Linked DNA regions of Homo sapiens: region 1 is linked to region 2. The links come from fine-mapping of genetic effects on gene expression. A gene starts in region 2. The other region holds a variant in brackets. All regions are shown on one strand. Distances are from middle to middle.

Evidence for each region. PIP is the estimated chance that this variant, and not a neighbour inherited with it, causes the effect.
Region 1: its variant is fine-mapped to the expression of MMP2-AS1 in liver (GTEx, PIP above 0.99).

Annotation. Positions count from the first base shown.
Region 1 is chr16:55,427,071-55,432,590 of GRCh38, forward strand. MMP2-AS1 (MMP2 antisense RNA 1) reads right to left here. Exons shown (of 7, transcript NR_147198.1): 5 at 2,291-2,410; 6 at 431-514. Among named protein-coding and RNA genes, the nearest start is that of MMP2-AS1, 32 kb to the right of the region's middle. The variant C/T (reference allele first, on the strand shown) is at 2,220.
Region 2 is chr16:55,459,339-55,464,338 of GRCh38, forward strand. MMP2-AS1 (MMP2 antisense RNA 1) reads right to left here and starts at 2,959. Exons shown (of 7, transcript NR_147198.1): 1 at 2,837-2,959.

The DNA of each region.
Region 1 (5,520 bases), 32 kb before region 2:
TACGGTTAAGTCACATGATCACATTTAACTGCCAAAAAACCTGGGGCAATGTAGTGTTTATTCCAGGCAGCCAAGGATCCACTTAAAAGCTAAGGGTGTTTCTTATGAAGGAAGAACTGAAAATACATATTAAGGGACAACAAGCACATAGATTGAGGGAGCCAACCAGGAACATCAGGAGCCTCAGAGAGTCCCTCGAGAGACGAGCTCACATGGTGTGCTGGTATTTATTGCTACATAACAGCTTACCCCTAAATTTGGCAGCCTGAAACAGCAAACATGTTATCTCGTGCAATTTCTGAGGTCAGGGGTCTAGAAGCAGCAGAGCTGGGTGGTGCTTGCTCTCTAGAAAGGCTGCAGTCAAGCTGTCTGCTGAAGCTGAAGTCATCTTAAGCTCAATTGGGGCTAGAAAATCCACTTCCAAACTGACCTCACAGGGTTGTTGCTGGAGGCTTCAGTTCGTTGTCTTGTGGGCCTCTCCATTGGGCTGCTCACAACATAGTAGTTTGCTTTCCTCAGAGCAAGAGATCCAAGGAAGAGAAGAAGGAAAAGAGGAGAGAGAGAGAGAGAGAGAGAGAGAGAGAGAGAGAGAGAGAGAAAGTCATCTAAAATGGAAGCCACAGTCTTTTCTAACCCTTCTGAGAAGAGACACGTCCTCTCATCTGCTGTTTTCTTTTTGGCCACAGAGCCCAATCCTGGCACAATGTGGAGGAGGATATGAATCCCAGGAGGCAGGGATGACTGCAGGCATCTTGGAGGCTGACTACCAACCATGGATAGGTAAATGAGTGCCAGGAGTTAGGAGATCACACCTCGGTAGAGAGAGTTCCTTGAGCCAGGAAGACTATGCACAGGCTCAGGAAGGCTGGCTGGGCCTAAACAGAAGTGGGTCAAAGGTTAAGGAGTATGTCTCAGTCTATTTGGGCTGCCATAGCAAAATGCCATAGACTGGGTAACTCATAAATAGCAGAAACTGATTCCTCACAGTTCTGGAGGCTGGGAAGTCCAAGATCAAGTTACTGGCAGATTGGGTGTCTGGTGGGGGTCCATTCCTCATAGATGGCATCTTCTTGCTGAGTACTCAACATGACAGAAGGGGTGAACAAGCTCCCTGAGGTCTCTTTTATATGGGTACTAATCCCATCCATAAAGGCTCTGCCTTCAAGACCTCGTCACCTCCCAAAGGCCTCACCTCCTCATTTCATCACACTGGGGATGAGGTTTCAACCACTAATTTTTGGTGGGAGGAGACAAATATTTAGACCTTAGCAAAGTACAACAAAATGTTCCTGTGGTTGCTTTCTGATATTCACCCAATCACCCTGAAGGGACAAACCTTTCTACCACTTCAAAGAGGGAGACAATCTTACTAGCATGTAATAATCAGCACTGTTACCCACAGCTCAAGCCCTCACCCTAGAAACAAAGCCAAGACCACTAAGTGGGTAGGTGTCCTGGCTAAGTGTGGACACAGGGCACAATCAGAGATGTGAACACACAAAGAGCTTCACCAGCTTCTCACAGACCCTGCTTGCCTTTCGAAGTGATGAATACACATGGCCTGGTCATTCCAGAGACTAATAAGACCCCTCTGGCCCATTACCTGAAACTGGGGACCCAATACCATGCAGATGGACTGAGTCATTACAAAGGCAATTAAATGCCCAACTCCATAGCCAGGTGCCAACATGTAGGCTTTTGTGCATGGATAACTTAGTTCTTTCAGGAGGGGAAGAATCTTTAGTCTTATTTTCTCTCAAGCCTGGGGTTAATTGGGAAGCCAGCTTCGGTGACTAGTACACAGAGGCTAATTTGTACAACCATTGCTCACAAGTGGGTGGGGGGGATGACGGCAAAAAAAAATAAAAATACAACATTGCTGGAGACAGTCTGCCATTGAATTGGATCTTAATATTCTAGTCCATGAACCAGCGGTTGCACTAGAGCTTGGTTAAAAAAAAAAAAAAAGCAGGAAAAACCCACACACATTCTTTCAATTTCTAAAGGGAAATTTGACTCGGGCTGTAGAACAAAGGACGAAGAAATAGAAGTAAAAGAAAATCAAAGAAAAAGTTATTTGGATTCAAGGGGATCAGATGTTTCATTTATTGCAGGTTGGAGACCTTCAATCAGCCAAATGAAAGGAACATTTGTATTAAAATACCTATGAGGCAGAGAGAAAGCCTTGATCGGGTGCAGCAGAGTTAAGTTACAGCAAT[C/T]GTGCTGAGAGATATGAACCCACCTTCGAGGTTATCTGTTCCCAATATTGAAGGTTTTCTGTGTTACAAACCTGAGATGAAAGGTAGTTGTTTTGACGTCTGGGTCTGGAAGGCAGACGCTGAAATTAGCAGCATTCTTGATGTGTGTGCAGCAGGAACATGGAGCCCGGGATGGGGTGAAAATGTAGCTGCTTTATTAAAAGGAAACGATGTTAATGCAACACTAAGTGCCCAAGTCACCCATGAGGGTAGGGTGTAGATGGGGATTACAAAAACACCTTCTGAGAAGGGGCAGAGAAGGAGCACTGCACTAGGGGTCTGGGACCAAAGGTATAGCCCCTCCTCTGACCCTGGGTTGGTAGCTCCAAAATAGCTGGGACTTAGCCTGTCTAGTTCACAGTGCCAGGCATATAGGAGGTGTTTGATATATGTCAAACAAATGCATGAATGAATAAATGAATATGAACTTGGGCCTCTTTGGACCTAAGTCTTACAAAATAAGGAGCTGGGACTAACTATGGATTTCTCCAGTGGGATGAATACCACTGATGGTTGGGCAGCACATGGATGGGTTTGGGTGACATGCAAAGACATGGTATTAAACAGTACTAACTCAGAGAGAGAAAGGTATCACTTCTGGACTCTTTCTAGCCTCTGACTCCCTCTAAGAGAAAGTCTCAATCCAATGCTAACATCTCTTTAACACCTCTGCAATGTTTTCAACCCTCTCTTCATAATGATAAGAGGGGAAGGCCCAGGCTCACATCCTCAGCAGGCATCAGCATCCAACTCCATTTCATAACTTGATTTATTTCCTTTGTACTTAATTTCACAGTTGCCTTTCTATGTATGGCAAGTGATAGTTTTTCCTTGGCAGAACTGATCTTTTTAGGGTTTCTTTGTCAGACAGATGTTTCTAAGTAAGCACGAATTGATGTAAAGCCACCATTAAGGAAATAACAGCTCAAGTGGGATGCAGACAAGGAAAATATCATGATGATGAGAGATGGTTTGGAAAAAAAAAAAAAGAAATTGTCCCAGCTGACCTTGAAGGTCTCTTCTGGAAACACTGAGCATCTGAAGTCTAGGACTCCACTCTTCTGGTTTATGTAGAGCAAATCCAGCAGTCTCTAGCAAAGAGGTGACTGCAATCCGAACCTTTGGAAGATGGGCCTATTCATGTATCCATTTATTCATTCTCTCAATAAGTATTTATCAAGAGCATATTATATGTGCACTGCTGTTCCAGGCACTGGGATAGTAGTGAAAGAAAAATAGGGAAAAAGTCTCTGCCCTCATGGAGTTTCTGTTTTAGTGGTTTGAGGCAAGACAGGGACCAGGGCAGGTAAATGAGGCACTGAGGGTGTGTAATGTAAGGAGGCACCTGGTCTCAGGACTGCGCATGACCTTGACCTGACTTGAGACGAGTTTCCCATCCTGACCGTAACCTGGCATAGTTGTCATCATTCTGGGGGCCACAAATCCTGTCCCTGGAGGGTCTGGTGTAATTGCTCTTTGGTGGGTCCCCAGACTAGTATCTGGGGAGAGCAACAAAGATTATTCCCATCCACTTCCAGGATTGAGAACCACTGACATGGACCAAGAAACCTTCAAATTTTTTGATTTGGCACTTTTCAAAGGCATCAACCTTCTTAGTCACTAAGTCGATCTTCACTTACCAAATAAATTAACTAATGAGTGAGTTGGTATGTTGTCACTCACCATAATGACAAAAATACTCCTGTCCTCTGCCTCCTTACCAGGTGTCAGGTAATATCATTCACTTTTTTTTTTTTAAATGAAGTCTCGTTCTGTCTCCCATGCTGGAGAACAGTGGCCAGATCTCGGCTCAATGCAACCTCCGCCTCCCAGGTTCAAGTGATGCTCATGTCTCAGCCTTCCAATAGCTGGGATTACAGGTGCGCACCACCACGCCTGGCTAATTTTTGTATTTTTAATAGAGATGGGGTTTCGCCATGTTGGCCAGGCTGGTCTCAAACTCCTGACCTCAAGTGATCCACCTGCCTCAGCCTCCCAAAGTGCTGGGATTATAGGCATGAGCCACTGTGCCCGGCTTCATTCACTCTTTACATTTCTTGTTTCATTCCATCTTCACAATCACCTACAAGATAGGTGTTATTATCATCATCACCCCCTTTTGAAGATGAGGACACTGAAGGAAAGAGAAGTTAAGGAGCTTAACCCCAGCCCAACAAAACTTGCTAACTTTACCCAAGCTAACTTAGCCAAAGAAAACCCAGAAGGGCCATGCTCCTAACCCCTGTGCCCTACTGCTTCTCTATGGGATGAGTCTCAATGCCTGGGGACTTGGTCACAGGAGTTACAGCAAAGAGAGTGCATGTGAAAATGAGTGAAGTAAGGAGTCCTTTGTACCTTAAAGATAGCACATAGGAATAATTGTCACTTCCACCAAAAAATGTGTTCCTTCTCATTCTTCTCCAAACATGAGTCTAATTCTAGGTTCATTTTGCTTCCATGTCTGTTAAAGCCACAGCCATACAACTGTGGTCCTCTATATAAGAAAAAAGCAACAGTGCAAGCATGGTATTACATAACAACACATCCCCTGGTATTGGGGAAGTCTTGGGGCATGGTGGGGAGTGTGGCTAATTGGGAAGAGGAGCCTGTCCAATGTCTCCAGATTTCCTGACTTATCAAAAGAAATAAGAAATTTAGATTTAGTTGAGCCAGGCGCTGTGGCTCACGTCTGTAATCCCAGCACTTTGGGAGGCCAAGGCGGGCAGATCACGAGGTCAGGAGATCAAGACCATCCTGGTTAACATGGTGAAACCCCATCTCCACAAAAATACAAAAAATTAGCCAGGTGTGGTGGCGGGCGCCTATAGTCCCAGCTACTCAGGAGGCTGAGGTAGGAGAATGGCATGAACCCGGGAGGCAGAGCTTGCAGTGAGCCGAGATTGCACCACTGCACTTCAGCCTGGGCGACAGAGCAAGACTCCATCTCAAAAAAAAAAAAAAAAAAGAAATGAAATTTAGATTTAGTTGTGAAATCATTGAATTTCCAAGGGGGCTCTAATTTATAAGTAACTGCATGGGATAAATACATGCTTTGGAAAACCTGAGTGTGAAGTCTTCTGGAAATGACCAAGCTAGAGAAGAAGTCTTAGGAATCTACTCTAAGATCACTGAGTGATCTAGGACAAGCTCTGGGGTTTCTCTGTGCCATGAATCTAAAGCTGTAAAAAGGATATGAAAAATATTATTTATTCATTCTTCAACTTTTAGCAACAACTTCTATATATTAAACACTGTGCCAGAT
Region 2 (5,000 bases):
ACTTTGGGAGGCCAAGGCAGATGGATCACTTGAGGCCAGGAGTTTGAGATCAGTCTGGCCAACATGGTGAACCTCTGTCTCTACTAAAACATCAAAAATTAGCTGGGTGTGGTGGCACACACCTGCAATCCCAGATACTCAAGAGTCTGAGGCAGGAGAATCACTTGAACCCGGGAAGCAGAGGTTGCAGTGAGCCGAGATTACACCACTGCACTCCAGCCTGGCAATACAGCGAGACTCAGTCTCAAAAAAAAAAAAAAAAAAAAAAAGCAGCTCTATGTGACTCCCTCCCTCCCCCTACAAAAAAATAGAGGGTTCAGAGACTCAGTCAACAGCATTTCTGGTTCAACAAGCATCAAAACTAGCTGAGTTCTAGGTCACTGGGGTGGGGCAGAGGAGAGGTCTAAGGACATTTCACACCCTGACACCAGTCTGTCCTTTTCTTGGGGGTTATTTCCAACCACAGACTCCTTTGCAGCCTCAGAATCCCCGAAAGCAGCTCTCCCAGGCCCCACCCAGCTTCCCTCCTGCAGTGCTTATGCCCAGTTCATGCACCAGTCTCCAATCCAGCCATCTCCTCTCACCCCTGGCCCTCAGCTTCATTTGCCTGGGCCTGTGACACCCAAGGTCTTGGAACCCTATTAGGTTGGTGCAAAGGTAATTGTGGTTTTACCATTGAGTAAAACCACATTTACTTTTGCACCAATGTAATAGATGCTGAAAAAACGGCCTTGTTTGGGAGCTCAGGAAAGCAGCTGGCTGAATTCAGAGAGACAGGACTGACTGGGATCCCCACAATCCTCACTCTCCTGGGGAATGGCCCCTCCGAAAAGCACCCTGCAGCCCCCGGGCTGATTTCATTGGGATATGCAGGAAGCCAACCGCTCCTGCTCACAACAACTACTCAGCACTGACTGTGTTTCAGACACCATCCTCAGCATCAGATGAGCAAAATCTAACACTCTCAGATGCCATCTGAGGTGGGCTTACTGAATATCACCCTTGGAAAGATGTGGAATTGTAAAAGAAGAAAAAAGGACCTCCCTTTGCTAGAGTGGGATCTTATTTCCGGCAGCCAAAGAGGCCAGGGCTGAAAAACGCCCAAATGGCCTCTGAAGCAAAATCTCACGATGAAACAAGCCTCAAAAAGCATTTACTAGCATTTCTGGTCATGGCTGTTACGGATGAAATGGTGCCTCACCTTCTGCACCCCCTCTGGCCCCCACACCTTCTATGTTCCTATCTCAGGGATTCTCCACAGGGACCTGGAAGGACAGCTGAGTGGACCGAGAGATCACACGGAGCCACTGTGAGGGGTCAGGGGATAGGGAGAGTGAGCTGCCCAGGGTGGCTGCAGAGAGGGGAGCTTGGGGAACAGAGACCGCAGGGAGAAAGAGCTGAGTGCAGCCTGAGCCCGTGATTTTCAAGCCCCGCCGCTGGCCTCCTAGGGTTCTTGTAATCATACTCCGACTCCCTTCTCCTTAGTTAGTCTAAGGGGGCTTCTGTTTCTTGCTCCCAACTGCTGCCTCACTAAGATAGACTCATTTTCAGATCTCTCTACGGATTGTAGCCTTTCCTGCAATTCCTGCCTGGATGGCTGCTCCTCCAGGCCTGGACTGGATGGAAGGTTCCAAGCGAGAACCTGCAGCATTTCTGCTTCTGCGGCATCATCCACCTCTGAGAACCACTCCAGAGGACAAGCTGAGGAGCCTTCCAAGAGCTCCATGTGTCTGTAAATGCCTTCAAAACCTGGTCTCAGTGCATCCTTTTTGCACCCACAGCCAGATAGCTGACCACACAACATCAGGATAGAGTGGTCACCACCCATTTTCTGTCATGGGAAAGGAAATTGCCCGGGAAAGGCCTTGCCCAGTGCAGACATGGCAGGCAATGCTGAGAGCTACAAAATCCTTCTAGAAGCTGTTGTCTTTCAGTTATTAAGACTATAAGGGCTGGGCATGGTGGCTCACACCTGTAATCCCAGCACTTTGGGAGGCTGAGGTGGGTGGATCACAAGGTCAGGAGTTTGAGACCAGCCTGGCCAACATGGCAAAACCCTGTCTCTGCTAAAAATACAAAAAAAAAAAAAATGCGCATGCCTGTAATCCCAGTTACTTGGGAGACTGAGGCAGGAGAATCGCTTGAACCTGGGAGGTGGAGGTTGCAGTGAGCCGAGATCACGCCACTGCACTCCAGACTGGATGACAAAGCAAGACTCCATCACGGAAAAAAAAAAAAAAAAAAAGAAGGCAGGCTGCCTAGCTTAGCTTTGCCATGACTAATCTACTTACCAGCTAAGCAACATTTGTGCAAGCTATTTCACCTCTGTGTGCCTCAGTTTCTTCATCTATAAAATAGAGATAATCATTTTACACCCCTCAATAAATGTCTTTTGAATCAATTAATGAATACTTGTAAAACACCTGGCATATTGTAAGCCCTTGTTAAATGTAAACTTTAAATGTTAAATGGTTTCTTTCTTTCTTTCTTTCTTTCTTTCTTTCTTTCTTTCTTTCTTTCTTTCTTTTCCTGTTTCTGTTCTCTCTCTCTCTCTTTCCCTCTTTCTCTCTTTCTCTCTTGGAAGGTCTCACTCTGTTGCCCAGGCTGGAGAGCAGTAGTGCAATCATGGCTCACTGCCTACAACCCCACCGTAAGTCCCTCTGGGATTCCATGATAGAGGTACTTATTCCAATTAGGGTCAAGCTGGAGGAAGAGGCGGCTGTGGCCTAGCTGTCAATTCCTCAGGGCTGGTCATTGGGGAGGAAGGGCAGGAACCAGCTGAGTTCACTGAGAGTTGGAACAGGAGACGCAGAAAGGTACAGATTTGGAAACTGACCTGGGTATCACAGTTAGGGCTCCAGGGCACTCCAGCCTGCGGTGGGAGTTTGTAGGTGTCTAAGCTGTGGCTGGGAGGGCAGTGGAAGAAAGTCAAGCTGTGCCAATTTTCCTATTTGAAGAGAAAGGGAGCAGGGGAACCAGAGTTCTAGGTGACACCATCGGGAAGACAAGCTGTGTCCTCAGCCCGGCCTGGGGGGAGGACTGGGTTGCAACTTACAGGAAAGAGGATTGACTGGATTCTTAGAAAAACAAGAGCCAAGGCTTGTTGCTGTGCAGAGGGATTGGGGTCACCAGCTGGCTGTTGTTACCGTGACTGATTCCTGATGCTTCGGAATTCAAGGGCAGGAGGCACTTGGGGCACTGGCTGAACCTTGGCTCCCTGACCCCTCCTCAGTCCCCTTCCTGGGCTCCACAACATATAAGATGAACGTTCTGATTGTCTATTTCTCCTCCCTTCTCGTTTTACTCTTCATTTGGTGGAGTGTATGGTAGGGATAAAATCTTAGAGATGTTTATCTGAGCCATAGAGAGACCTTATTGGGGGTGCATGGGAAATACACAAGTAATCCCAAGCTCACCTTGCCTGGGTGCCTGCGGAGGGCAATTGTGCATTAGCGGTAGAGTGTGGTGGGGACCTGGGCCTGGGTGGGCAGGGGAGAGCTTCTGGACAGGGGCTGGTGGATTAAGGTCATGCCCATAGGTGGGAAGCCACCCACACAGAATCACAGCATCTCAGAAGGGCAGTGCCAGAAAAATCCCCAGGGACCTCATTTTCCTTGGAACACAACCCAATTCCTTGGCTTGGCCAACCAGGCCTAGCGCATCTGGGCCCAACTTCATCTGCCTTCATTCCTCCACTGCATCAGTAGGGTCATTTGGGTGTAGGCCACAGAAGTAAACTCTGGCAACATAAGCGAAGGGGGATTTGTTAGAATAGGATAAGGGAGCCAGGCAACTGGAGCAGACATCAAGGTGGGAACACCAGGCCTCAGGGTCCCGCAGTTGCTGTGCCTGGGCTGCCATTGTTCCATCTGTATCTATGTCACGCGAGGTCATATGAGTGGGCCGGGCACGGTGGCTCACGTCTGTCATCCCAGCACTTTCAGGTGGATCACCTGAGGTCAGGAGTTCGAGACCAGCCTGGCCAACATGGTGAAACCCTGTCTCTACCAAAAATATAAAAATTTGCCAAGCCTGGTGGTGGGCATCTGTAATCCCAGCTACTCAGGAGGCTGAGGCAAGCTAATTGCTTCAACCCAGGAGGCAGAGGTTGCAGTGAGTCGAGGTCATGCCATTGCACTCCAGCCTGGGTGACAAGAGTGAAACTCTGTCTCAAAAAAAAAAAAAAAAAAAAAAAACCATATGAGTGTCCCATTGGCTCAGCCTAGATTACAGCCCCACCCTGGCAGGGTAGTAGGAGGAAGGCTTAGAACTGTCTTGGCTTCTGAAGAGGGCAGGACAGTAACCCAATCCACCTTCCCAGAAACACTGTCCTCAGTGGGGAGGAGGGACAACTCCCAAGGAGATGGGGACACATGCTCGCCAACCAAACCCACAAAAGCTCATTGTGCCTGTCGCTCTGCTCCAGCCACAGTGGCCTTCTTCTGTTCTTCAAATACAAAAAAGCTTGTTCCCACCCCAGGGCCTTTGCACTTGCCATCTGCTCTACCTGGAACACTCTTCCCCTTGTTCTGCATGTGACTGCTTCATTTTCCTCCTTCAGGACTCACACCTAACAAGGGCCTCCAAGAGGCCCTCCCTGACGACCCATTCTCAAGTTGCCCTCATCAGATAATCTTGACCTCATCCCTCCCAGGTCTCCTAGCCATCTAAAATTACCTTGTGTATGAGTCTGTTTGCTCTGTATTGCCTGTCTCCCCACTGGAATGCAAACGCCACAAGAGCAATGACTGCGGTTAATTGCTGCTATATATCCAGCACTCAGCACAGGGCTTAATAAGCATTTACCAGGCAAATAAACATATAGAGACAGAGAGCCCCAGAGGGACGGTGCTTTGGCCGAGGATGCCCAGAGAAAATACTGATGTCATTGAGGGTGCAGAAGCCAAATCTTGCTTGCTCCGGGGGCACTGGATGGCACCAGCCTAAGAGTGTGGGCACCAGAGCAGATTGCCTGGGTCAACACTCACTCTCTGTGTAAC